4 separate regions of the Homo sapiens genome follow, and all the other regions are linked to region 2. The links come from fine-mapping of genetic effects on gene expression. A gene starts in region 2. Each other region holds a variant in brackets. All regions are shown on one strand. Distances are between the middles of the regions.

Region 1 (5,966 bases), 24 kb after region 2:
ATTTAACCCTGGGGAAAACTGGAACCTTCAGAAATTTAATGGAATACTAAGCCCAAGAACACATGGTCTGACCTTGAACCCTGGTTCTGATCTGCTTCTGAGTTATTCTATAGCCATCTCAGCCAACAGAACCGTCACGGGAATATTCTGTCTCTGTGTTGTCTCATATGATAGCCACTAGGCACACAGGGCCACTGGGCACTTGGGATGTGGCCAGTGGGACTGAGGAGCTGCGCTTGTTGTTTAAATGGAAGCTTAGATTACATAGCCATCGGTGGCTGGTGGCGGTGTGCTAGACGCTGCTGCTCTGGGCCCTGCTGACTTTTGTGACTTCATCTCTGATCTCATTCCCCTCTCCTGGCTTTCCCTTTCCCTCTGCCTTCACTCCCAGACCTCCTGTGCTTTTTGATTTTTGCATTTGCTGTTCTCTCTGCCGGCATCACTTTTTCCTCTGATCATTTTATGGTTTGCCCCTGTTCAACAGGAGGGCCTCAGATCAAGTGTGTGTCTTCAGAAAGATCTTCCCTATTCTACCTAATTGTGTCCCCAGCCCCATTCCAATTGCTCCTTATCTCTCTGAAGTTACGTTTGTGTGTTTTCTTGTCTACTGCCCTATCCCTGGATAAAAATCCCAGTTTCACCAGAGCAGGGATGCAGTCTGCCCTCTCCCACTCCATCTCTGTGCCTGGAACAGCGCCTGAGAGGCAGAAAGTGCTCAGTATGGTGCTTACAGTGTGTGAACATTCTGCAGGACAGCCCCCTCCTTCAGTGAGGAGGAAAGGCGGTCATGGCCCCAGTAACTTCTGCTGTGTGACAAAATAACATGAGCACAGCGGCCTAGAACAGCAAAGATTCGTATTTCTTCCAATTCTCTGGGTCTGGAATGTGAGCAGGACTCAGTTCCACATTGTGTCACTGAGGGTCACTCAGCTGGGGGCTAGGCTGGACAGGGTGGCCCAAGAAGGCCTCACTCACACAGCTGGGACTTTTGGGCTCTCCAAGAAACATCTCTATGCGGTTTGTCTGGGTTTTCTTACAGCATGGAGGTCTCAGGGCAAGTAGGCTGACTTTTTTTTTTTTTTTTTTTTTGACAGTGTCTTGCTCTGTTGCCCAGGCTGGAGTGCAGTGGTGTGATCTTGGCTCACTGCAACCTCCGCCTCCCAATCCTGGGTTCAAGCGATTCTCCTGCCTCAGCCTCCTGAGTAGCTGGGATTGCAGGTGCCTGCCACAATGCCCAGCTAATTTTTGTGTTTTTAGTAGAGATGGGATTTCACCATGTTGGCCAGGCTGATCTCAAACTCCTGACCTCAGGCCTCTGCCTCGGCCTCACAAAGTGCTGGGATTACAGGTGTGAACCACTGTCCCCAGCTGGCTTCTGAGAGAGGAAGCAGAGGCTGCCAGGCCCAGAACTGGCAGCACCATTTTTATCACCTTCTACCGGGCTAACTAAGCCATAGGGCGAGAGCCCAGATAAAAGGGGAGGGGAAACTGTCCACTTCCTGGTGGGTGGGCAGGATGTTCATACCAGCAGGAAGGGGTCTATGGACACGCTACACAGTCACTTCAACAGTGCTGTGGTAGTGCTTCTCAACTTTGATCATGCACATGGGCCATCTGGGGTCTAGTTAAGATGCAGATTTAGTAGGTCTGGAGTGGAGCCTGAGATTCTGCATTCCTAACAAACTCCAAGAGACGTCAAAGCTGCAGGCCCACAGGCTGCACGTGGAGTAGCAAGGCTGTATTAGAATGCATCCTATCAGGACTGAGCCTATGCTTAGGTTTGACATTGCAGGGCCCTCAATTCCACTTCTAGAGTGGACAGCACTTCTTTGGGTTAAGCATTACCCACTGTTGCTGAGGTCTACATGATCGGTCCCTTCTTCCCAGGCATCTGGGCTTGTGCCCACATAGGGTAACTGTCCCATCCTACCTCCCAAGCACTTCTCATGCATTGCTTTATCAGCCTTTAAGGCCTCTTCCTTCTTTAACATTTAATTATCATTGTGTCCCTTGTAAAATTGGTGGAATGGGTCTCTTTCAGTTAGGATTAGAAACTAAACTCAAACTAGTTAAAAGGCAAAGGATTGATTGGAGCACATATGGCTTCAGGACTGGCTGTATCTAGGCCCTCAAATGATGTTGTCAAGAAACTACTTGTCACCATCTCCAGTTCTGCATTGCCAGGATCGCTCTGACAGGATCCCCCACAAGTGGAAGGAGAGACGAACACTCACTTAGCAACCCCAGCAAGAAGGGGGCACCACTTCTTGCCTAATCTTTCTGGCAAAAGTGCCAGGATTCTGTCTGGCTGGCCCAGCTGAGGTCGCGTGTCCACAATGATGCAGTCACTGTGGCCAGGAGGATGTGTTACCTCATTGGCCAGGCCTGGTCATGTGTGTTGTTACCTCACTGGCCAGGCCTGGTCATGTGTGTTGTTACCTCACTGGCCAGGCCTGGTCATGTGTGTTGTTACCTCATTGGCGAGGCCTGGTCATGTGTGTCCCTGGAGCCAAGTGGGAGACTGGCCCCACCCAAGCCACATTGGATGAAAGCAGGAAGAGGTGATTCTCCATGTAAAATTGGAGAGAAGGGAGAGCAGTTAGAAAGCTAAAAAATTGTCCCAATTGATCATGAGAACAGGTGTTGAAGTCCTTGTGTGATGGCTGAGAAAACAGAGGGCGGGAGCCTCATAAATTCCAGAGGGCCCACAGCTAACCAGGCCTCCCAATCCCTAGCACAGACTCAGGGGCTGTCGAATTAAAGATCTTTAGCACCAGAAGAATCTTGAAAATTAGCCAACGCATGTTCCACAGAACACTGGTTCAAGGGAAGCTAACTGATGTTACTTAAAAGGCTGTCTGGTCTAGGAAAGGTAAAAGATAATGGGCTAGGCCAGGTCAGTAGTTCCCTAGCTTTACAGGACTTTTCAAAGCCGTAAATAGGCTGGTGTACATTGTGAATCCCTGAGAATGGGGGGAGGCCTAGGGACTATTGTTTGGAAAATTAGTAACCTAACTCTATTCCTCCCCATTTTATAGATGAAGCAACTAAGGCCAAGAAGGGAAAGTGATTTGGGCAAGGTTATGCAACTAGTTCATGCTGGGATTACCCCAGATGCTATGTTGAGGCATACTTCATGCTGTGCAGAAGCATCTCTTTGTACCTCAGGGCAGCCCTGTCCTCCTGGTTGTGTTCCTGCTGTCTGGAGTCTGTGTGTTTTCCTTTCTCCCACATATCCCTGCATAAGGGTTTGTGGGCTTCTATGGCACTGCTCCTGTGAGGGCCCATGGGCACCCAAAGTGCCCAACCCCTGCCTGGGACATGCCCCTCACTGCTGCATGCCTGAGGGAACTATTGAGAGGTGCAGAAAACCACATGGGTCTGTACTTAGGAAAACGCAGCCACCCAACTGGCAAGGTGACGGCATAGATGAGGTTGAAGGGGCTTGAAG[G/T]TTGGCCAAATCCGGAGAGTCAGCACAGACAGACACCAAGTGTGCCAGGCTGAAGGGTGAAGGTTCCTAGAGCCAAGTACACACTTTAAATCCAGGGAGAGATTGTGGGTCAGGGCTGGGGTGTGCTGACGTGAGGGTGATTGTTATAGCAACATTACCTTTGAGACCCTCATTCACCTGGGCACTTCATATGAGCTCATTCTAAGCCACTCAGTGACCCGGCTTGGGGATTATCATGACCCATATAGATCAAGAAGAAAAAAGTAGCTGTTGGTTAGTTGGCTGAACTCACAGGTATGAGCTTAACACGAAGGATTCAAGCTCTGGCTCTTCTCTTCGCCAAGTATATGATCTTGGGCATGTTACTAAACTGTCTAAGCCCCCATTTCCTCATCTGGCAAATGGGGCTCAGATATGTTCCTACATCATAGCTTTGTCGTGAGGATTAAATAAGATGTCTGTGAATTAGCAAGACACCTAGCCCATCCGTAGTAGGGGATCCTTAAGTGATGGCAGGAATGGAGAGGTAGGAACAGATCCACCAAGTAAAGGGTAAAGCCAAGATCAAACACAAATCCAGCCAGGTGTGGCTCCTTCTGCCTTTTCACTGCCACTAAGAGAGGGGTAGCATTCAATGAGCAGATGGCAGTGGCTCAGAGTGCAGATCAGTGCAAAGGTCTTTCTCGTCTTCTCTGCAAAGAAGGAGGGATGGCATATGTGTATCTTTGGTCATTTCCAGGTGACTCTATCCAAAGTCCATGCAGGCAAGTAGACGCTGTGAGCAGGATGGAATATACAGATCCAAACCTCTAGAGCAGAGCTAGGGCCAGGCATGACTTGATCAACATCTAAATGCCACCAACACCCAAGGGCCACACAGAGGGAAGAGACCGGGGACCACATCTTGGCACTTTCAGATGGGTTTGCAAGCACTGGAAATCAAAGCTTCACCAGGGATGCTTTAAAGATGAAAATCCCAGCCGGGCGCAGTGGCTCACGCCTGTAATCCCAGCACTTTGGGAGGCCAAGGCAGGCAGATCACGAGGTCAGGAGATTGAGACCATCCTGGCTAACACAGTGAAACCCCATCTCTACTAAAAAAAAAAAATACAAAAAATTAACCGGGCATGGTGGCAGGCGCAGTCCCAGCTACTGAGGCTGAGGCAGGAGAATGGCGTGAACCCAGGAGGTGGAGCTTGCAGTGAACCGAGATCGCACCACTGCACTCTGGCCTGGGGGACAGAGCGAGACTCTGTGTCAAAAAAAAGAAAATCCCAGTAAGGATTTAAGGGAAGATGCTGGGAGTAGCATGTGGTCCCCGAGTAGGAAGATGGAAGTACAGCAGAGGCAAGAATGGCAGTCACTGTTTGTAGATATTTTTCACAGGGAAGGTCAGAACATGTCCCAGGGAAACCATGTCCAAGGTTCAAGATGAGAATGACCTGATCCTATATATATATATACTTTTTTTTTGAGATGGAGTTTTGCTCTTATTGCCCAGGCTGGAGTGCAATGGCACGATCTCGGCTCATTGCCACATCCACCTCCTGGGTTTAAGTGATTCTCCTGCCTCAGCTTCCCGAGTAGCTGGGATTACAGGCATGTGCCACCACACCCGGCTAATTTTTTTGTATTTAGTAGAGACGAAGTTTCACCATGTTACTCAGGCTGGTCTCGAACTTCTGACCTCAGATGATCCACCCACCTTGGCCACCCAAAGTGCTGGGATTACAGGCGTGTGCCACTGCACCCAGCCCCAGCCAAGATTGTTTTTTAAGAATCAAAACTTGACTACGGGCTGGACACGGTGTCTCATGCCTGTAATCCTAGCATTTTGGGAGGCCAAGGCAGATGGATCACTTGAGGTCAGGAGTTTGAGACCAGCCTGGCCAACATGGTGAAACCCTGTCTCTACTAAAAATCAAAAAAAAAAAAAAAAAAAAACCAAAAAGAATTAGCCAGGTGTTGCGGTGCATGCCTGTAATCCCAGCTACTCGAGAGGCTGAGACAGAAGAATCACTTGAAACCAGGATGCAGAGGTTGTGGTGAGCTGAGATCATGCCACTGCACTCTAGCCTGGGTGACAAAGTGATATGTCTCGAACAAAAACAAAAACAAACAGAAAAAAACCTGAGATCCCTGATCCACAAAAGCCTGAAATATGATGTCAAATTGTATTTATATGTGCAAGGGGGCATTTTTCTTGAAGGAAGGTCCATAGCAGGAGAGACAAACCGTGGCATGGCTTTGTTTTGTTGGGTCCATACAGCATTATGAATATTTGAATGATTTCCCAACATTTAAAAATTGGATACTAGTACATAAAAATCTAAACGTTGGGCTTCTCTTGAAAAGACTCAGAAGAGCCAGTCACATGGGACCCACATTCCAGAAAGGGGTGGCCTCCTTTAGATGGGGTCTGGGACCTCAGTCAGCTACACAGTCCATAGCACTTTTGTGACCTCCTCAGTGGATGTCCAATGTTGGTCCTCTTTTATCAGCGCCCTTGCACTGT
Region 2 (5,966 bases):
TGGACAACACAGTTCTAGACAGTAGCTTTTTCAGGCAAGAACTAGGTCTCACTTGCGGTGTTTGAAGGCCCACCACACAGGAGACCCTCGGTGAAAAAAATGAAATGAAAAATACCTTCAGCACTGCCAGATTTTCAAAATGCCTCCCCACCTTCCTGCCACTGAAGCTCTTAATTTTGATCTTCACGTTCTGTGTCCTCCCTTGGGTAATTATTGCCCCAGGAAGGTGGAGGTATATAGCCAGGAGGGAACATTTGGAAGGCCGGGCCCACATCGCCTAGCAACTGGGCAACAGGAACTGGCCTGACAACCTTCTGACCAGCTGGACCTCCACATTCTCATCCACTGAATGGGTGACAACCATTCCCACCCCCTAGAACAGGGTTATTTTAAGGCCTAAATGTAAACCACAGTTGTGGAATCTGATTCTAAAAAGTGAACCTTAAAAACCAAGTTGGGCTAAGCTTCATTTATCCAATGAGACAGCTGGGAATAGTTTAACAGGTATGGGGGCGCTGTCCGCCTGGTATAACCAATATTTATGATGTTATAGGCCAGGCCTTAACCACTGCAGGCCCAGCATGCACAGACGGACAGCACAGTCCCTGCCTTCATCATTCTGACTTGACCATTATTTTTGTTTCTCCTGAAACAAGATTTTAGCAAAGAAAAACTTGCTGTCTCAACAGAACTGTTGATCCTCTATGTGTCATTCATCTATTAGTTAAAATTCCCAGGGCTAAAAAGACAAGAAGAGTCTGGGGTCCCGACACTTTTAAAAGGTGTCCCTGCTACATAATAAATCAATACTCCAATTCAATCACTGGCATTCAACCATTTAAACTGAGTTTGCTGCTATGTAATTATTGCAGCCTGTTGAGTTAGGGCTCATTTCATTAAAGAGCATAATTGCTCAAATGTGACTTGATTTAAGATTTATTTAAAACTCTTCCATCACCAAAAAATACTCATATACCATGAACCACTGTAACTTCTTAATCTCTCTGTAAATGTTCAGAGGCAGATTCCTAAGTATGAAAGGTGAGAGTTGTTATAGTGCCTAGAGCTCTAAACCCTCTCCTAAACCCCAAGATCCCTTTCTGGTTTCCCCTCCCCCAACCTTAGCCTCCTCCAGGCCTCCACTGGCCCAAGATCCCTGCAAGCCGGCTTTGCGGTGCTCCATGTAAAAGGAAAACTTCACCTACTAGGAGGTCTGCCCCGGCCTTTGCTTCAACAGAGAGGGAAATGGCACCTCCAGGACCTCAGAACCGGAAGCTTCTTTCTGGAAGGGAAAGAGGTTGGCATATGATAGTGGGAGTGACCTTTGGCAAGTTCGTAAACGAGTCAAGACATCACACAGTAAGTGACATGCTGCAGGGTCACAGATTTCTCTAGGTGTCGGATTAACAGGAAGTTAAATCAAACAAGGAGTGTGAGGAGGGAGGCGGGGCAGTGGGAGAATGCCCCCCAGCTGCACAGGGCGGGGTAACATTCGCAGTTGTTCTTCCTGGGAGTGCCAGACAGACGTCCTGGGTCTCTGGGGACACCCAGTTCTGAAGAGGTATCTAATGTGAGATATGAGGCCCTACCAGGCCCATTTCTCCAAATTCCTGAAAATGCCATCCAGATGGCCCCTACCCTGAAGGTTCCAGCACGCAGAGTGAATAGCTGAGCAGTGACGTGGGAGGCTCCTCAGGTCCCTCAGAGTTTCATTTCCTTGGTGCTTCCCAGTCTCTCCTAACCTCTGACCTCTCAGAGTAATTGCCAAATTGCCTTCTGTTTGTACAAGGTCCCAGCACTTCCCGGCGTGGTTCCCGACCCTGTGAGTGGGTGGTGCTGTCTTCAGGCCACAGATAAGAAACTAGGATTCAGAGGGGCTATGGGACCTGCGAGTAGGCGGCCAGTACGTGGTCCGGGGTGTAGAACCCCGGCTGTGCAACTTCTGCAGCCCCGCGCCCGCCGCAGTGCCGGAGCCAGGCCCCACCTTCCTCCCGTGTCCAGCACCCCCCAACAAAAGCATCCCAACTGAACAGCCAACACTTGTGGCTCCTTCCTACAAGTGCTGGGTCTCCACAGCTTTCCTCGCAAATCGAAGCTAACAGGAGCCCCGATTTGCAGACCAGGAAATGGAGACCCCGAACGAAACAACTTGGTCGGGGTCACCCTCGCCAGCCGGGGCACTCTAGAGCTAAAACTCGCGACTTATCATTCGGAGAGGGGTCCCTGAAGCACTGCGGGCGCCCCACTGGAAGCGCAGACCCCGGCCTGCCTCCCCTAATCAGGGCGCAGCGGGAGAGCCGGCCGGGCCGGGGCGGGCACCAGGCCGGGTGCCAGCGCGCTTGGCCGGCCCGGAGGTGTCCGCTTCCGCCCGGGGCTGGCACCGCCGGCCCATTCATCGTGGCCGCGGGCGGGGCGGGCCGGGCCCCGGGCGCCCTCGTCCCCCCGCCGGGAGCCCTCGAGCCAGGCTCCGCGCAGCCCAGCCGGGGAAACGGTGGCCCCGGCCCCGCCGCCAGGGGGAGCAGGGAGCCGCCTCCCGCACTCCGGGAAGTTGCCACCGCGGCCGCCCGGCGTCCGTGCCATGGACAGACCCGGTCCCTGCGCCGCGAGCCCTGCGGCCCCGGCCCGCCCCGTCGGGGGCCGTCCCAGCCCCGCGAAGCGCCAGCGGGCCGCGGCCCGGGACCGGCGCGCTCGGCCCGTGGGCCCCCATTCAATCCCGCCCTCCTCCCCTCGGCCGGCCTCCGCCGCCTTCCGCCCGCACCCCACCCCTCCGGCCCGGACTCCAGCCCGGCAACGTCATCCGGCGGCTTCCCGAAACTTAACCCCTTCCTCCGCCAGCTGTGCGCCGCCCCGCCCCGCCCCGCCGCCAACTTTCTTCGCCCAACTTCGGAGCGCGCTGGCCGGCCCGACGGCCCTGCCGGGAGGGAGGGAGGCAGGGAGCGGTCGCCACGTCGCGCCCGTCTGCCGCCGCAGCTCCCCGGACGGCGAGGGCCGCGGGGTCCACACCACGGGGCGCGCCCTGCCTACGCCCCGGTACGGCGCTTGCCCGGCACCCCCGCCCCGAGTCCGACCCCGACCCCGATGGTGCACGGCCGCGGCGGCAGGCGGCGGGCGGCGGGCGGGCCGGGGGAGGGGCCGCCGAGGAGACGTGTCACTCGCGGCGCAGCGCGGCCGGCCCCGGCCCCCCGACGGCCCGGCCCGCGCGCGGCCGCTGCAGGGCCCGGCCAAGTTTCTTACCTGCAGCCAGAGACGCGAGAGGGAAAGCGAGAGGGCAGGAGCCGCCGCCTTCGCAGCCGCCGCGGAGCCGGGAGAGAGGAGCCGGCCAAGCCTCCGCCAAGAAACCGCCCCCGAGCAGCTGTAGACGCTGCGACCCTGACGCCGCCCGCCCCGTCTGCCGTCCGCTCCGGCCGCTCGCTGGCTGCGTGCGCGCGTGTGGAGTCGTGGCACTTTCTGCCTCAGAGCTGGCGAACGGCCCCCTCCGCCGGGATCGCCGCCTCCTGCCTTCCCCACCCGGGCCAGCCATTCATCGAGCCGCCTCTTCCCATTGGTCCGCACCCCGCCACTCTGCCGGTCGCTGGCCAGTCAGGACGCGGGTGGCCGAGCCGCGGCGGCGGCCATTGGGCAGAGAGGAGGGTCTCCACCTCGGCCAATGGGAGAGGGGAGGAGCTGCGGGGAGGTGAAGGGGGCAGGGCTGGGGAGAGGCGGGGCCGAGCGGCGCGGCGCTCGGCCGTGCGCGGGGCGGGGCGGAGCAGGAACGCCCCGCCCACCGAGGGGGGGGTCTCCGGCCAGCTCCGCCCACTCTGGGCCCGCGGCGCTCCCAGCAGTCTCTGACTAGGATCCGGCTCTGCCTAGGCGGGAAGCAGAAGGTTCGGGTCCCGGCGACCCCGGGCCTGCGCCTCTGGATACCGCTGGGCTGACATGGCGGTGGCTGAACAGGGTTGCGCAACCGCGAACAGCCAAGGAAGCTGCTTTATTTAAACCCAACTAACTTCCCCCGAAGCAGCGCCCCCTCGGGCCGCCGGGTATGAGGACAAGCTCTGCTGGGGGTCAGCCCAGGGAGAGCAAGTTCTTATCATCAAAGAGATTGCAATCAGCACCAGAAGGAATTTCCTTCAGTAAATGGAGGAATTGGGGTGGAAGAGCCAGAAGGTGCACGAGGAATTGAAGCGGATGTCATCGCCCTCGTTGTTAGGGAGGGTACAACTGAGGCACGGTCTATTTAAGATACTCAACCAAATCACAGCCGGCAGAGCAATAATTACAATCCACTCTGTGGCGTTTTATTCCATGCGTTGGGGAAGGTGAGAGGTTCTAACCTAAGAAAACTCATCCGTGTCCCACAAAACGGAGCAACTGGTACTTCCTCATTCCCTGACTTTCTCCCCAATATCAGCCAACACTCAGTCTTCATAATTAGTCAAGTCTTTAAATTAAAATAATTTTAGGCTTGATTTTTAACCATTATGTCAGCGTCTCTTAAAGCCAACCCTTTGAACTTGAGCCAAAGCCAGCTTCTTTGGAATTTTGGATTCTGAGCGACCAAAGGCTGCCTAGACTGCCCCCCATCACTTCCCTAGCTCCTGTTGCTGCAGAATCCCGTGCCTAACATCTATTTCTTGGACAATTTTCAATCTTCCCTGTCCCCATTTGTCACTAGTACTGTACTAGCTGTTGTTAGAAAGATGTGAAAAATACAAGCCTTCATGGGGAATAAAGAGCGATTGGGTTGAAATTAAACTGTTCATTCCTATTTTTAATCTTGGCGGTTCCTTAGCCCATTAATGATTAATCAGCAGGAATTAACCTGGATTAACTCTGGAACACTCAGTCATTTTCCAGCAGTGAGACCCGGCTTCAAATGAAAGTCAAGAATCCCAGCTTCTGGCTGGCAATTGCTACCAATGAGTCCTACTTGACCAGGGCTGGGCCATCTAACCTTTCTGAACATGGGTATACTCCTTTAGGACAATCACTCCTTCCTCTGGGTTTCAGGGAGGAAATTCATTCGTTCATTCATTCATTCATTCATTCACCGGTGTTTGTGGAGTGCCCGGTATACAGTGCTAAGCTGGGCAAGCAGCCTAGAATGACACATAGGTCCAGTGAAGACCCAGCTGCCCTCAAGGGCCTGTCCAGGGACAGGGACCTCCTTTATCCTGTTCACTGTTTATCTTTTTCCGGAAGCAGATCCTGGCAGTAGGGTTTGTTCAATCATTCATTTGGGGGATAATCATAAGAAACATTGGTGGAGAAGTGGGATGAGCAGGAGCCAATAAGGGGACCAACATCAAGCCTGTGACTGGTGTGGGCACACAGGGCTCGGCGTCTCTGGGGATGCTGTGAAACTGTAGAACACACCCCAGAGACGTCCCAGCTGAGGGGTGAGGACCTGGTTATTTATCCAGCCACTCCCAGTCCTCATTGGTTAACAGCTTCTTCTGGGGGGACTTTAACCCCCGCCCCCATCAAGCTGGAGAAAGCCTTGCAGCAAGAAGCCCTTGGCAGAATGGTGAGTGCCTGGAGGCATGTCGGGGGCCACAGCAGTGTCTCCCACACTGTGAACCATAGTCCGACACAGCACCTGCACAGAATAGAGGCTTGTGAATATACGTGTTCTGTAAATATTGTCCCATGAGCGATAACATTACAAAGTCCTTAGGAGTGAGGAGTGTTTACAGAAAAGGGGCTCCCTGTTTGTTCCCTTACATAACTTAACATTTGATTTGGCCTCAACACAACATTTGTTTCGGGATGGAAGAGCAGCCCTGTCTGAGCCTTTGCATTTCCTCTGTCCTTGCCCCTCATCTGCCAACAGCCAGCCCCAATGTGCTGTGAAGACTTCCAGCCTCATCATCCTCATGCCCTTTGGGCAAAGAAATCAGTCCCGCTGCACCAGGCTCTGTCAGGGCAGATCTGCACACCCTCAGGGTGGCCCGACTTTGACAGCCACTGCTGTGCCTGTGGACACC
Region 3 (5,966 bases), 43 kb before region 2:
GACACACCCCATGAACATCTGCCTCCAAGGTCACATGGTTGACTGTTCTAAGACAAAGCACATGCACCGCCTCTAACCCCCCTGAGGAAGCCTCGATTCCTGCCCTCTGACCTCCAGCACGTCCTGAGACATGCAGCAGGGAGGAGGTCGCAGCCCACTATGAGCAGGGTGCAGGCTTCAGACTTTGACTACAGGGCCAGTCTGGGCAGCCGCCCAGTGCTGGCCGCTGGAGCTGTGTGATTTTCAGGCCTTGGTATTATGGGATCCTCCCCACCATGTGGAAAGAAGATAGAGCCTGCGTTTCTCTAGGTTCACATGAAGGGTGAGAACTTCACAGACACCCAGGAGGCAGGGAAACAGGGCTGGCCATCTGAGACTAGGCTCTTTTGAAAAGTGTTCTTTAAAATGTATTTCATACCTCCCTGGCTTTTAACATTATACACACACTTGGGCTGCCAGACCCTGTCCAGCCAAATGCAACAGCCCCTGGACTCCTAAACCTGACCAGACCTTACAGACCCCTGTGGGCATCCTCAACCCCCTCCTCATGCCTCACCCTTTGGGCCTCTCTGGCTCCCTCCGTCCTGGACCTGGACTGGGTCCTGTCCCTTCCCATGCCCCCGCCAGCCACTACACCCACCTTGCCCTGCAGCTGCTGCACCTCCTTCACGTGCTCCCGGTAGCTGGCCTGCATGCGTGCCTGCACAGCCGTGATCTCCTGCTCCCGGGCCACCAGCTGCTTTTTCACTTTGGCCTCCCCGGCTGCTGCTTTGGCCTTTTCTGCTGCCATCTCCTGGGGGGAAAGTAGCAGAGAGAGGGGCTGGTAAGCCTTGCAGGGCAGGAGCCTATCAGAAGGGAGCAAGAGCATCACCCGAGCTGGGAGGCTGGAGAGCAGAGCACAGACCCCTCCTGCTGGCCGGGTTCTCAGCTAGACTCAAGCCAGCTGCAGTGGGAACGACGACAGACAACAAGGGATCCCTGGAAACCCTGCTGGCCCTGGCCGGTTGTGGGCTCAATGTCAGGCCTTGGCCACAGTGGAGGTGGCAGATGCGGCAGGAACAGCAGAGACACACGGTGCTGTCCCTGGCTCTCCAGGGCACTGGCTCGGCCCTGCTGTGATGACAACACCCCAGCTTGACTCAGTCACCAACATCCAGGGCCCCTGGGACACCTACTTCTACTCAAGTGCCTTCATCAGGACTGAAAGGCACCAAGCCCTGATGGCTAGGGTGGGGGTGGGGCCAGCTGCCAGTTCCGCCGTGGCTGGGGGTAGGGCATGCATCTCTGCAGGCGGTCGCTCTGTCCTCCACCCAGGGGGACATCGGCTCCGATCAGTGCCAGATACCCACAGGTGAACATGGATGCCGAGTCTGGGGGGTCCGGCGTCTCCAGCAGGGACAGAGCAGGATGGGAAGGCTGGCCATGGTCTGTGTCATCCCAGAGGGATGGCCTCAACCAGAAACCATAGGGAGGCAGGGTGACAACTCAAGGAAAGGTTGACACAATGAGCCCCTGGGGTGGGGGTGTTCCCTGTCTAGCAGGCCTGGACAGACCAGCACTGATGTGATGTGAATACATATCATAAACACAGCAGGCCTGAGTGACCAGGGCACAAGCGTCCCACCAGCGTCAAGGCTGCTCCATGGGCAGTGGGCCAGGAGTGAGGAAGTCCGTCCCCTCCCCAGACCAGGACTATAGGGAGGCCTGTCCCAAAGGCCAGAGTGTCCCTCTTGCCTGAGATGGGAAAGAACCCTGAGGAGGAGCCACTGGGTGCTGGTGCTGTTCCGTGCTCCTGGTACTCTCTGGGACCTCCTGGGACCCTTGGCCTCACTTTTCAAAGACAATCATCTTTTTGGCTCTGCCCGGGGTGAGAGGCCCACAGGAACCTGCAGGTCTGCTTCACTGATTAGCTACAGAAGTGGGGGGCGGGATGAGCTGACACTGCGCCCCAGCACTGTCCCATTTAATTTTCTCTGGAAGACGAGGATTACAATCCCCATCCAAGCTGAGGTCACAGAGCCTTGGAGAGGACACACTTGTCCAAGGCTGGGGAGCAGCTCTAAGAGGCAGGGGTGGGGCCCAAACCTAGGACTGTACAAGACCAAGGGGTTCCCAGAAAGGGGAGGAATGAGGACGCCTGCCCTTCTGTGTGGGCTGGGAAGCCCCTGGGGAAAGGGAGGACAGCTTAGCGGTGATTCCAGGACCCCTCCGCACTTCCTCCTCTAACACACGTGGCCCCACCGGCCCACTGCTGGCAGACAGGTGTGGTAGAGATGGCTGGAAGCCTCCCAACACCAGCAGAGAGGAGGCCGCTCTCTTTGCTGAGTTTCCGACACAACGGCCCTTCCAAGTAGATGGTCCAGCCTTGCGAAGAAACCAAAGCTCATGGAGACCAGGCATTCCCACAGCCACATGGATGGCTGGTTGGGAAGCCACACTTGGGTCATCCTCAGCCCTCCTCTGCCACCTGGAGACACCCTTCCCAGCCCTGGGCAGGCCTCGTGCAGTTCCAAGGTCCACCCCGCTCAGGGTCTGCAGACCCCTATCTCCTGGGGGTCAGCGTCCCAAGGCCGCCAGGATTCAATGGGATCTTCCCCCTCTTTTGCCTCTAGGCTTTTTAAAGAGCAGAGAAAAGTCACTTGTCCTCAGTGCAGCTGTTTAGCTCTCTATGGTTTCTTTTTCTTCAAAGAGCTCAGAGACCCAGGGTTCCTTCTGCTTGTCAAATTCTTAATTCAGTTGCAAGAGTCAGATTTATTTCCTTGAAAAGCATTCCTGATGGTGGTGGGGGGGTTCCGGCGCACAAGAAGACAAGGCTTGGCACCATCACTAGCATTGGCTCAGAAGTGACTCTCTGTCCCTACTTCTTCCAGGC[G/A]CTGTTCCCTAGGAGTAGTGGGGCCCCTCATGGTGTAAGCTTTGAGGACTGTAGAGAGCCCTCCAACCTGCTTTCCCAGCCAAGCAAGGAAGCAACCTCCACCAAGAAGGCCTGGTAACAGGAACTCCTCCCGTGACCCCATCCCCAGGTAAACCCTCTGAGGGTCCCAGAGGGCCTTGGGGCTCCTTCTGTTTCACAGCCCCATCTCCTTCTGGGCCCTAAAGCCAGAACACGGGACCAAGCCCAGGACGGGGCCAGTCCGAGGCATGGCTTCAGGACAGAGGTTCTGGTGCCCAGGAACATGACAGCTGGAATGTTTTTCCAGAAGGTTGTGCCTTCTTGGTTACATCACTGGAGCTCTGCCTGGACTCCTCAAACCCCCAAGAGATTCTCAGACAGCCAGGACAGAGTTCTCAAGGGCGTCTGAGCCCATCAACTCCTGCAGACAGTGTGTGGACTGGTCCTTGAACCCAACTCTGCTGGGACTTCGCACATTTGGGAGACCTGGATACAGCAGATGATCCAAATTTTCTTTCTCAGTGTGTCCAGATCATGCCTTCAGCATCAGACCCCAAGAAACAGAATTAATGAAAACCCTTTTCAACTATAAAAACTTCTCTACAAGGACAAAGAAAACATGTCGAAGGGACTAGAACAAGAAACATAGGTTCCATCCATCTCCCCAGCTCCCGAGGGGGATTAAGGTAAGAGGAACTGCCACACTCTCTGGAATTTACTGTCTCACAACATTTCCCTCAGCAGTGCTGGGCAGTTGCAGTGTTACCGTAAGAATGAGGTAAACAGGCCAGGGACGGTGGCTCGCAGCTGCAATCCCAGCACTTTGGGAGGCCGAGGTGGGCGGATCACCTGAGGTCGGGAGTTCGAGACCAGCCCGACCAACATGGAGAAACCCCGTCTCTACTAAAAATACACAATTAGCCGGGTATGGTGGCGCTTGCCTGTAATTCCAGCTACTTGGGAGGCTGAGACAGGAGAATCGCTTGAACCCGGGAGGCGGAGGTTGCAGTGAGCCAAGATCGTGCCATTGCACTCCAGCCTGGGCAATAACAGTGAAACTCCAGTCTCAAAAAAAAAAAAAAAAAAAAGAATAAGGTAAACACATCGGCTCTGCTCAGGACTCTCAACAGAGAGCACGAGCACAGGGAAGAGAAACGGCCAAAGGCATCGACTACAAACATTTAACTATTTACAAGAAGACAATGTAAAATACTCAGAAATGCTTCCAGGCTTCCCCTCAGCTGCGAGGTGGCCTGGCCCTCTCAGTGGCCACTTGATCACTGGCGGCCTGCTAGGCTGAGCCTGGTGAGACCACCAGAGTGGGTCTGCGCCACCAGGCTTGAGGTCTGACAGGAGCCAGATGCAGCCAGGTGATGCCTAACTGTACCAATGACCTCTGTGCAGAACAGGAACATGGGAGCTCCAGAAGGCTCCTGAGGGAGGGAAACCAAATTGAGTCTTCCAGAGTAAGAAGACAATGTCCAGACATCCAAGCACGGAAGGGCATTAGAGGCCAAGGGAAGAGCAAGAGGAGAGCCCCAGAGGAGTCACGAAAGGGCACAGAATGTCTGAGCACAGGTAGGGAAAGGGAAGAGGTGAGGCCAGAGGCAGGGTGAGTGGCTGAGCTGGGGCCTGGGGGGCAGACTTAGGTCTGAAGATTAGGGGCCCCTGGCAGAGCTTGATGGGGGTCCTCACAGATCAGCATTTGGGAGCCCAACAGGACCTCTTCCGGCTTAGGGAGCAGAGTGTGGGTGGAAGGGAGGCCACGCACCGTTAACCTTCTCCTCACCTAAGAGGCAAGGCCAGTGGTCTCCGAGGAGGCTGGGTACTGAATGAGGACCACAGGCTGCCCTGAGCATGCAGCCAGGGAGATATTCTACCACCCCAGCAGGGTGGAGAGCAGCATCGAAGAGCGGCCATCTAAGGTGTGTCTTCTGGTCCTGCCCATCCCCCACCCAGTGAACTTCCCATCTGGCTCAGAGCCGTGACCCTGAATTTGCGACAAAAAGTAAGGCTGCCTTACTTCCAATTCTTTGTGCTCGAGCAGACAAAGGCACCCGGAAGAAGGGCTGTAGCCCAGACACTGTTGGACAGTCCACCATCCAGGCCCTCCCCCTGCGCCCGCTGCCCGGGATGGAGAAGGCAGGGAGGCAGGGAGAGGGCAAGAGCAAGCCTGCGGTGCTGCATGGGGCAAAGACGGCTTTCAACAGGGCCTGACCAGTCCCAGAGGGCCAGGGGGCCCCTCACCCTGCCCTTCCTCCAGGAAGGCTGGGGCACCAGGGCCCACCCTCAGCAGCAGAGAGGTGGGGAAAGACCCCGGTGAATTCTGCAGTGGGAAGAACAGCCCCTATGCCATGGATCCCAACACAATCTCAACGTGCCATCAGCCCCGTCCTATGGCAGCACCAACCCACCACCGTTTGCTGTTCAGAGTGCAAATGCTACGTGCCACGCCATCCGCTGATACGGGGAGCCAGGGTTTCCCTGCACATCCCTCCTCTGACATCAGAAAAAGGGAGAAGAGCAGCCCCTCCAGTCCCCTCCCCACAAGGTTTTGCATAATCCTCAAGAAAACAACCTTGAATCTACTGTGGCCACCCTCCTTTCCAGGCACAGCCCCTAGAAAGCTGGCCTGTGACTGCAGGACCTGTCTAGTGAAAGCCAGGTCTGGTCCATCCCCATCACAAACTGATGCTGCTTAACTTCCAAACCCTTGCTTCACTTCCCTGCGTTCTTACAGCCACGAAGGAAGCCACCACGCCGTAGAGCCACGAGCACTGCCAAGGGTGAGCTGCCGGCCCTTGGCTCTTTAGGCAGCAGATAAGCAGCAGTCCCTACTCAGCAGCCTGACAGCCAGCTACGTTCCAGGCAGGCCCCAGCATCTCGGAGCCCGGGATCCACCGTGGATGGGGCGGGGGTCCTCTGAGGACGGGAGAGGACAAACCATCTCCGAGCCCACTCAGGCTGTACCTTGTTGAGCTCCCTCAGTTTGCTCTTGGCGACAGCCGCATCTTCCTGTTCTGTGGCCAGCAGTTTTTCCTTCTCTTCCAGCTGGCGTTTCAGAATCGCCACAGGG
Region 4 (5,966 bases), 160 kb after region 2:
AAAATAGGAAATTATTATTCTACCTTCTACAGAAGCTGTTTTATTCTATCCTCTTCAACAACCCCAACAGGCAGCCATTATTAACCCCAATTTAGAGATTTTAAAAACCGAGACTCGGAAAATGCCACAGTAATTTAGAATGTCTAAGCCACCAAACTAAGATTTGTGCCTTGTCTGCCTGGCTCCAAAAACTGGGGTCTTCTGCCATTCTGGGCAGCCTGTTAAGTTGAGAATTTGCATTTTAAACCATCCATCTGTGGGCAACAGTGACCTATCATAAACCACGGTCAAAATCAGAGAGAAGGATTTGAGTACAAGTAGGTGATTTGGGAGGTGATCTCAAGAAGCACCATAGAGAAATGTGGAAGAGAAACAGGGAAGAGAAGCCAAGAAAGGGGGCTTACTGGAGCCAGTTACTGCTGTGGGAGGATGGGCTACTGAGGACAGGGGTGACCAATAGAAGAGGGTCACATACTTCAGAGTTGTTGCAACCAACAGGCGGGGAGCTGGGGTCCTTGTCCATCAACTTCCAGGAGCCATTGAGAAGCACCACTCTGGTTCACTGGGTCTCAATCTAAAATCATCTGGGAGTTTGTTGTTGTTGTTGTTGAGACAGTGTCTCACTCTGTCACCCAGGCTGGAGTGCAGTGGTGTGATCTTGGCTCACTGCAACCTACCTCTGCCTCCCAGGTTCAAGCAATTCTCCTACCTCTGCCTCCAGAGTAGCTGGGATTACAGGCGTGTGCCACCACACTCGGTTAAATTTTGTACTTTTAGTAGAGATGGGGGTTCCCCATGTTGGCGAGGCTGATCTCGAACTCCTGACCTCAAGTGATCCACCCGCCTCGGCCTCCCAAAGTTCTGGGATTATGAGTCACCGCGCCTGGCCAAGTTTATTTTTTTTTTCCGTGATGGCTGGGTCTCAGCTCCAGTGATTTTGAGCTGATGAGGCTGTGTCAGCCTGAGCATGGGACTGGTGAAAGCTCCCCCAGTGACCTGTTGGACATGGTAGTTTGGGAAGCTCTGGTCTAGCTAGTTCCTCGGATCCCTCTGAGCCTACAAGTTCGAGGCCTCTTTGAACAAGCTCAGCTGAGGATGGAAACCCTGAGAAAGTGGCCCGTGCAGCTGGAGATAAATCATTTATTGGCCGGGGCTGCAGCTGGTGGCGGCTTGAGAAATGAGCTTTTTGGCCTTAACTCCACTGTTTGTGCTCCCGTGACCATAAGGGAACTGAACGCACAGACTTTCTTTTTAGAAAGAAAAAAAAAATGTCAAGCATATTTTCCAAGGTTTAATTTCCCTCCAATGTCCTGAAGAAACCTTTCGAAAAGCTTAGACTGCCTCAACCCCAGTATCTAGTAATAACATCAAACACTTTGAAATGGAGACCCAGTGTGACTTTGTTTAACTAAATAAAACCCAGGGAAGGAGAGAAATTAAAAAGAGCACGGGTTTAAGAGAAGTCAAATTTCCACCAAAAAGGTGGAAGAGGGAAGCTGGTTGGTGGAGTAGGATGGGAGGCAGATGCCGAATCCCAAGAGTTTAAAATTCAGGAAAAGAAGAGAAATGCACTGTCTTTGCCAGATTTAGCAAATAAAAATATGGGATGCCTAGTTCAATTTGAATTTCAGATAAACAATGAATTTTTTTTAGTGTGTGTCCTGTGCAATATTTGGGACATACTTATACTAAAAATATTATTCATTGCCCATCTGAAATTCAAATTGAACTGGGCATCCTGGATTTTATCTGGCAACCATAAAACATACAAAAATTGGTCTCAACTGGTCAGGACACCCTTAACCAGGTGTCTCTGAGTTAAATTGGGTGACTCTGTGCTAAACGAGATGTCTCTGGTCTTAACTGGGCATCCCTGGTCTTCTCCCATTTGTAACTGGAGTGGAAATACCCATAAAGGAAGATAAGGAAATAAATGGATGGAAAGGAGAGGAGACAGAGAAAAAGGGGGTCTTCATGGGAAGGGCAGGGGCACCAGCATCCCTCTGCCTGCTTTCTCCCACCCCTGAGCTCTCAGCACAGCCGAGGGACCTGAGGTCAGAGTCCCTGTCCAGAGTGAGAATTCGCCTTTCCCTCTGTGAGCTGAGGATTTGGAGGAAGGTCTGCAGAAATCGGGAGGGCCATCTGCCCCAGCCCTGGAGAAATGAGATGGGGTGCTGGAGGTTTAACCCCCAGGCACGGACTCGGGGCCACCCCTTCCCTATGGCCTGCCCTCCTTTGCCCAATCCTTTCTTCCCTGTGCTGCCTCCATCCGCCCTCTTCTCTTCTCCTACCTCCTCATCTCTTACCCTCCAAATAAGGAAGCCAGAGGCAGTGGTGTGGTCAGGGAGGATGCCTGCAGGTCTGATCCCTGCCCCCAGACAGAATCCAGTTGCCAATGAGGCAGCTGGGGAGGGTTTGGAGGAAGGGCTGTGGGTGCTGGGTGGTGCTGGGGATCCTGGCTCGCTGACCGCACAGGGCCCCACCGCTGGCTCCAGAGGACTCAGTGTAGCTGTCTCAGGCCTGCCAGGGCGCCTGCATTGGAGCCACATCAAGGTGAGAAGAGGGCCTGGCCTGCAAGGCAGCAAAGAACAGCTTTATTCCTTCACTGCCAGCGGCTCTGGGAGGTGGAAGATGACGTGGCCCAGTCATTCCACTCCCAGGAACTGACCCAAAGAAAATAATCCAGCCCAAGAAAGAGAGCTGTGCTCAGAAATATTCACAGCAACATAAGGGAAGTGGTTTCATAAACCTTGGCATGTCAGCACCGTGGAATGTTCCTTTATTTCACCCGACATTTAAGTGACCACTTGGTGACAGGCATCCTGCCAGCTACTGGGTAC[C/A]CAAAGGAGGGTATAAGCCGATCCCTTTTCTCTGGGGTTCACAAGCAAAATGAGGGAGGTTGAGAATGCAGCCTCCAGAGTCAGGTAGCGATGGGTCTGTACACCTGTCTGTCCCCTCATCTGTAAAGTGGTGACACCCCATAGGAAGTGGTGAGGGCCAGTGGGGTGACACGCATCACACACACAGCACAGTGCCTGACATGCAGTGAGTGCTCAGCAGTTACCAACTACCCTCATGGCTCCTCCTACTCCTGCAGGGATGTGACAGGCATGGTGACGGGAGGATGTGTGAGCCGTTAAGAGTTCACAGAAGAGGGTGTGTAGGCACCACCACTGAAGTATGCGCAAGTGCTGAGAGCAGAAGGAATGATGGGGTTTAATTCTACTGGAGATGTCACCAAAGGTCACCATAGGCCTTAACTCAGCTGGGTCTTGAAGGATGTATAGAAGTTTGCTGGATGGACAAGAAATGAAAAGACATGCCAGGTAGAAGCAAACCTGTGGGCCCAGTGTGGGCAAATTCAACTCCACCAGACTCAGCTCTCCATCATGGTCCCCAGCCTTTTGGTGATGATCTCAATCTACTCAAGATGTTTTCAGGCCAACATTGAAAGGAAAGGTTCTGGGTCTCTTCCCTTTTCTTCCCATGATTCTCAGCCCCTGTGCAAATGTTCCCATCTTTCCCAGCAGTCTTTGCACTCTTCATATCAAGAGATATTAGAAAGACCAGAAGTGAGCCATTTCAATGTCCACTCGCACACAACCGGGTGAAAAGATCCCACGTTCTTGAAGGAAGGGTCTGTGGTGATAATATTGATTAATAACAGTCAACAAACACGACACCATACTTTTTTTTCTTTTCCTTTTTTTCTTTTTTGAGAACAGGGTCTCACTTCTTGCCCAGGCTGGAGTGCAATTGCGCAATCACAGCTCACCGCAGCCTCCAACTTCTAGGCTACAGCCATCTTCCCACCTCAGCCTCGGAAGTGGCTGGGATTACTGGGCTCTGCAGTAGGGCAGCCCTGGGTTTGAACCTAGATTCACTATTACTAGCTGGGTGACCTTGAGCAGGTCAAGCATGCACCACCACACCTGGCTAATTTTTTCTTTTCTTTCTTTTCTTTCTTTTCTTTCTTTCTTTCTTTTTCTTTCTTTCTTTCTCTTTCTTTCTTTCTTTCCTTTCTTTCTTTCTTTTCTTTCTTTTCTTTCCTTCCTTCCTTCCTTTCTTCCTTCTCTCTCTCTCTCTTTCTCTCTTTCTTTCTTTCTTTCTTTAGAGATGGGATCTTGCTATGTTGCCCAGGCTGGTCTCTAACTCCTGGGCTCAAGCAATCTTCCTGCTTCATTCTCCCAAAGTGTTAGGATTACAGGCATGAGCCCTCACACCTGACTGTTTACTCTCTATTGAGTACTTTACAAATACCATCTCTGTGAATTAGGTATTCTTATCCCCTGAGCTTAGATAATGCAGCTGAGTTGACGCGGCCTGCTGAAGGTCACCCAGCTACTAATAGTGAATCTAGGTTCAAACCCAGGGCTGCCAGAGCCCATTCCCTTACACTGGGTCATGTTACTAAAAATGCCAAAAGAGGCTGGGTGCAGTGGCTCACGCATGTAATCCCAGCACTTTGGGAGGCCAAGCCGGGTGGATCACAAGGTCAGGAGATCACGACAATCCTGGCCCACATGGTGAAACCCAGTCTGTACTAAAAATACAAAAAATTAGCCGGGCATGGTGGTGGGTGCCCATAGTCCCAACTACTCGGGAGGCTGAGGCAGGAGAATGGTGTGAACCTGGGAGGCGGAGCTTGCAGTGAGCCAAGATCATGCCATTGCACTCCAGCCTGGGTGACAGAGTGAGACTCCGTCTCAAACAAAAAACAAAAAACAAACAAACAAATACAAAAATTAGCTGGGTGTGGTGGCGCAGGCCTGTAGTCCCAGCTACTCAGGAGGCTGAGGCAGAAGAATTGCTTGAATCCAGGAGATGGAGATTGTAGTGAGCCAAAATCGCACCACTGCACTCCAGCCTGATGACAAAGCAAGACTCCATCTCAAAAAAAAAAAAAAAAAAAAAAATGCCGAAGAGCTAAGTCAGGGCTTTGATCAAGAAAGGCGAGAAGGCAGGGTTGAGCTCTTCGCTTGAGAGAAGGGGTTAGCTGGTGATGTTGTCATAAGCCCACGAGGGGCCACAGCTCTAGACCTGAGTGCTACACATTGACCCTCCTCTTGGCACCAGACACTGCCCTGCTTGTCATTTCTGTACGGATCAGGGTCCCAGCACAAAACCAAAACCATGCTAGATCTTCCAACCCAGGGAGTTTAATAGAGGGAACTTGTTTTGCAGCTTTGAATTGATGAACAGCCATATGAGGATGTCGAGGTCACCCAGAGGTTAGTAACAACAGGAAGCCACTGCTACCATCACTAGGGCTGGGACAGGAAAGGACAAAGGGACAAGGTGGGGTCATCAGAGTTGATGGTTCTGGGGCCTCTGGCAGGAGCTGGAGCCGCAGCAGAGAGGCAGCCACTGCCTGACACACCCCCAGAAGCAGAGCAGGGAGACACACCCTGAGCTCTCCCCGCCTCTGCCCTCCAGGCTTCTACTCACTTGTCCAAGCCTATCTGAAGCCAGAGGGCAGGGGCCCTGGAAGGGACCCTCTCCACACTGTAGAACAGAAAGCAGAAAGGAGAGAAAAGGGTCTGAGAGAAAACAGGAGGAGGCCAGACACAATGTCTACCCCAACAACTGCCCTTCAAGGTCATTGTTTTTACCCCATTGTAGAGATGAGGAAACTGAGGAAACACTCACATATCCACACCTGCACCTACACATGTACACATCACATACACATATGCACACATACAACCATTATGCACATCATACACACAGGCTCACTGCTTCACTTTGAAGAGGTTAAATGACTGAGCCAACCAAGATGAGACAACTTTTAGGTTGGTGGAGACCTAATTTAAACCCAGGTCACTATATCGGTTTTCACAGCTCAGGCCAAACTGGTCACCTCCAGGACTTTGTGAATCATGAAGAATCCAACAACAAAACAACAGCAACAACAGCAACAACATAACAATGTAAGAGACCTTGAAGTTCCAAAGGCTTAGCCCGTG

Which allele goes with the higher level. Alleles are on the strand shown, and positions count from the first base shown. SD is a standard deviation of normalised expression in the study named. Not every link is listed here.
As copies of G replace A in region 3, the expression in neutrophils of the gene that starts at base 3,449 in region 2 goes down (moderate effect, 0.46 SD a copy in CEDAR).

What was found. PIP is the estimated chance that this variant, and not a neighbour inherited with it, causes the effect.
Region 1: its variant is the best candidate, but not a certain one, in a credible set for the expression of RRBP1 in thyroid (GTEx, PIP 0.85).
Region 3: its variant is the best candidate, but not a certain one, in a credible set for the expression of RRBP1 in neutrophils (CEDAR, PIP 0.81).
Region 4: its variant is the best candidate, but not a certain one, in a credible set for the expression of RRBP1 in lung (TOPMed, PIP 0.72).

What each region holds. Positions count from the first base shown.
Region 1 is chr20:17,702,673-17,708,638 of GRCh38, forward strand. The region is part of intron 1 of BANF2 (BANF family member 2); the gene reads left to right. Among named protein-coding and RNA genes, the nearest start is that of BANF2, 5.7 kb to the left of the region's middle. The variant G/T (reference allele first, on the strand shown) is at 3,452.
Region 2 is chr20:17,678,794-17,684,759 of GRCh38, forward strand. It overlaps RRBP1 (ribosome binding protein 1), which reads right to left and starts at 3,449. Exons shown (of 25, transcript NM_001365613.2): 1 at 3,235-3,449; 2 at 1,206-1,282. RefSeq lists enhancers at 743-1,942, 2,134-2,806, 4,060-4,119 and silencers at 2,380-2,689, 2,720-2,769, 2,800-3,129, 3,360-3,779.
Region 3 is chr20:17,635,937-17,641,902 of GRCh38, forward strand. It overlaps RRBP1 (ribosome binding protein 1), which reads right to left. Exons shown (of 25, transcript NM_001365613.2): 5 at 5,861-5,966; 6 at 641-793. Among named protein-coding and RNA genes, the nearest start is that of RRBP1, 43 kb to the right of the region's middle. RefSeq lists enhancers at 1-805, 806-1,679. The variant G/A (reference allele first, on the strand shown) is at 2,873.
Region 4 is chr20:17,840,982-17,846,947 of GRCh38, forward strand. The region is part of intron 1 of LOC107985440 (a long non-coding RNA gene); the gene reads right to left. Among named protein-coding and RNA genes, the nearest start is that of SNORD17, 120 kb to the right of the region's middle. The variant C/A (reference allele first, on the strand shown) is at 2,841.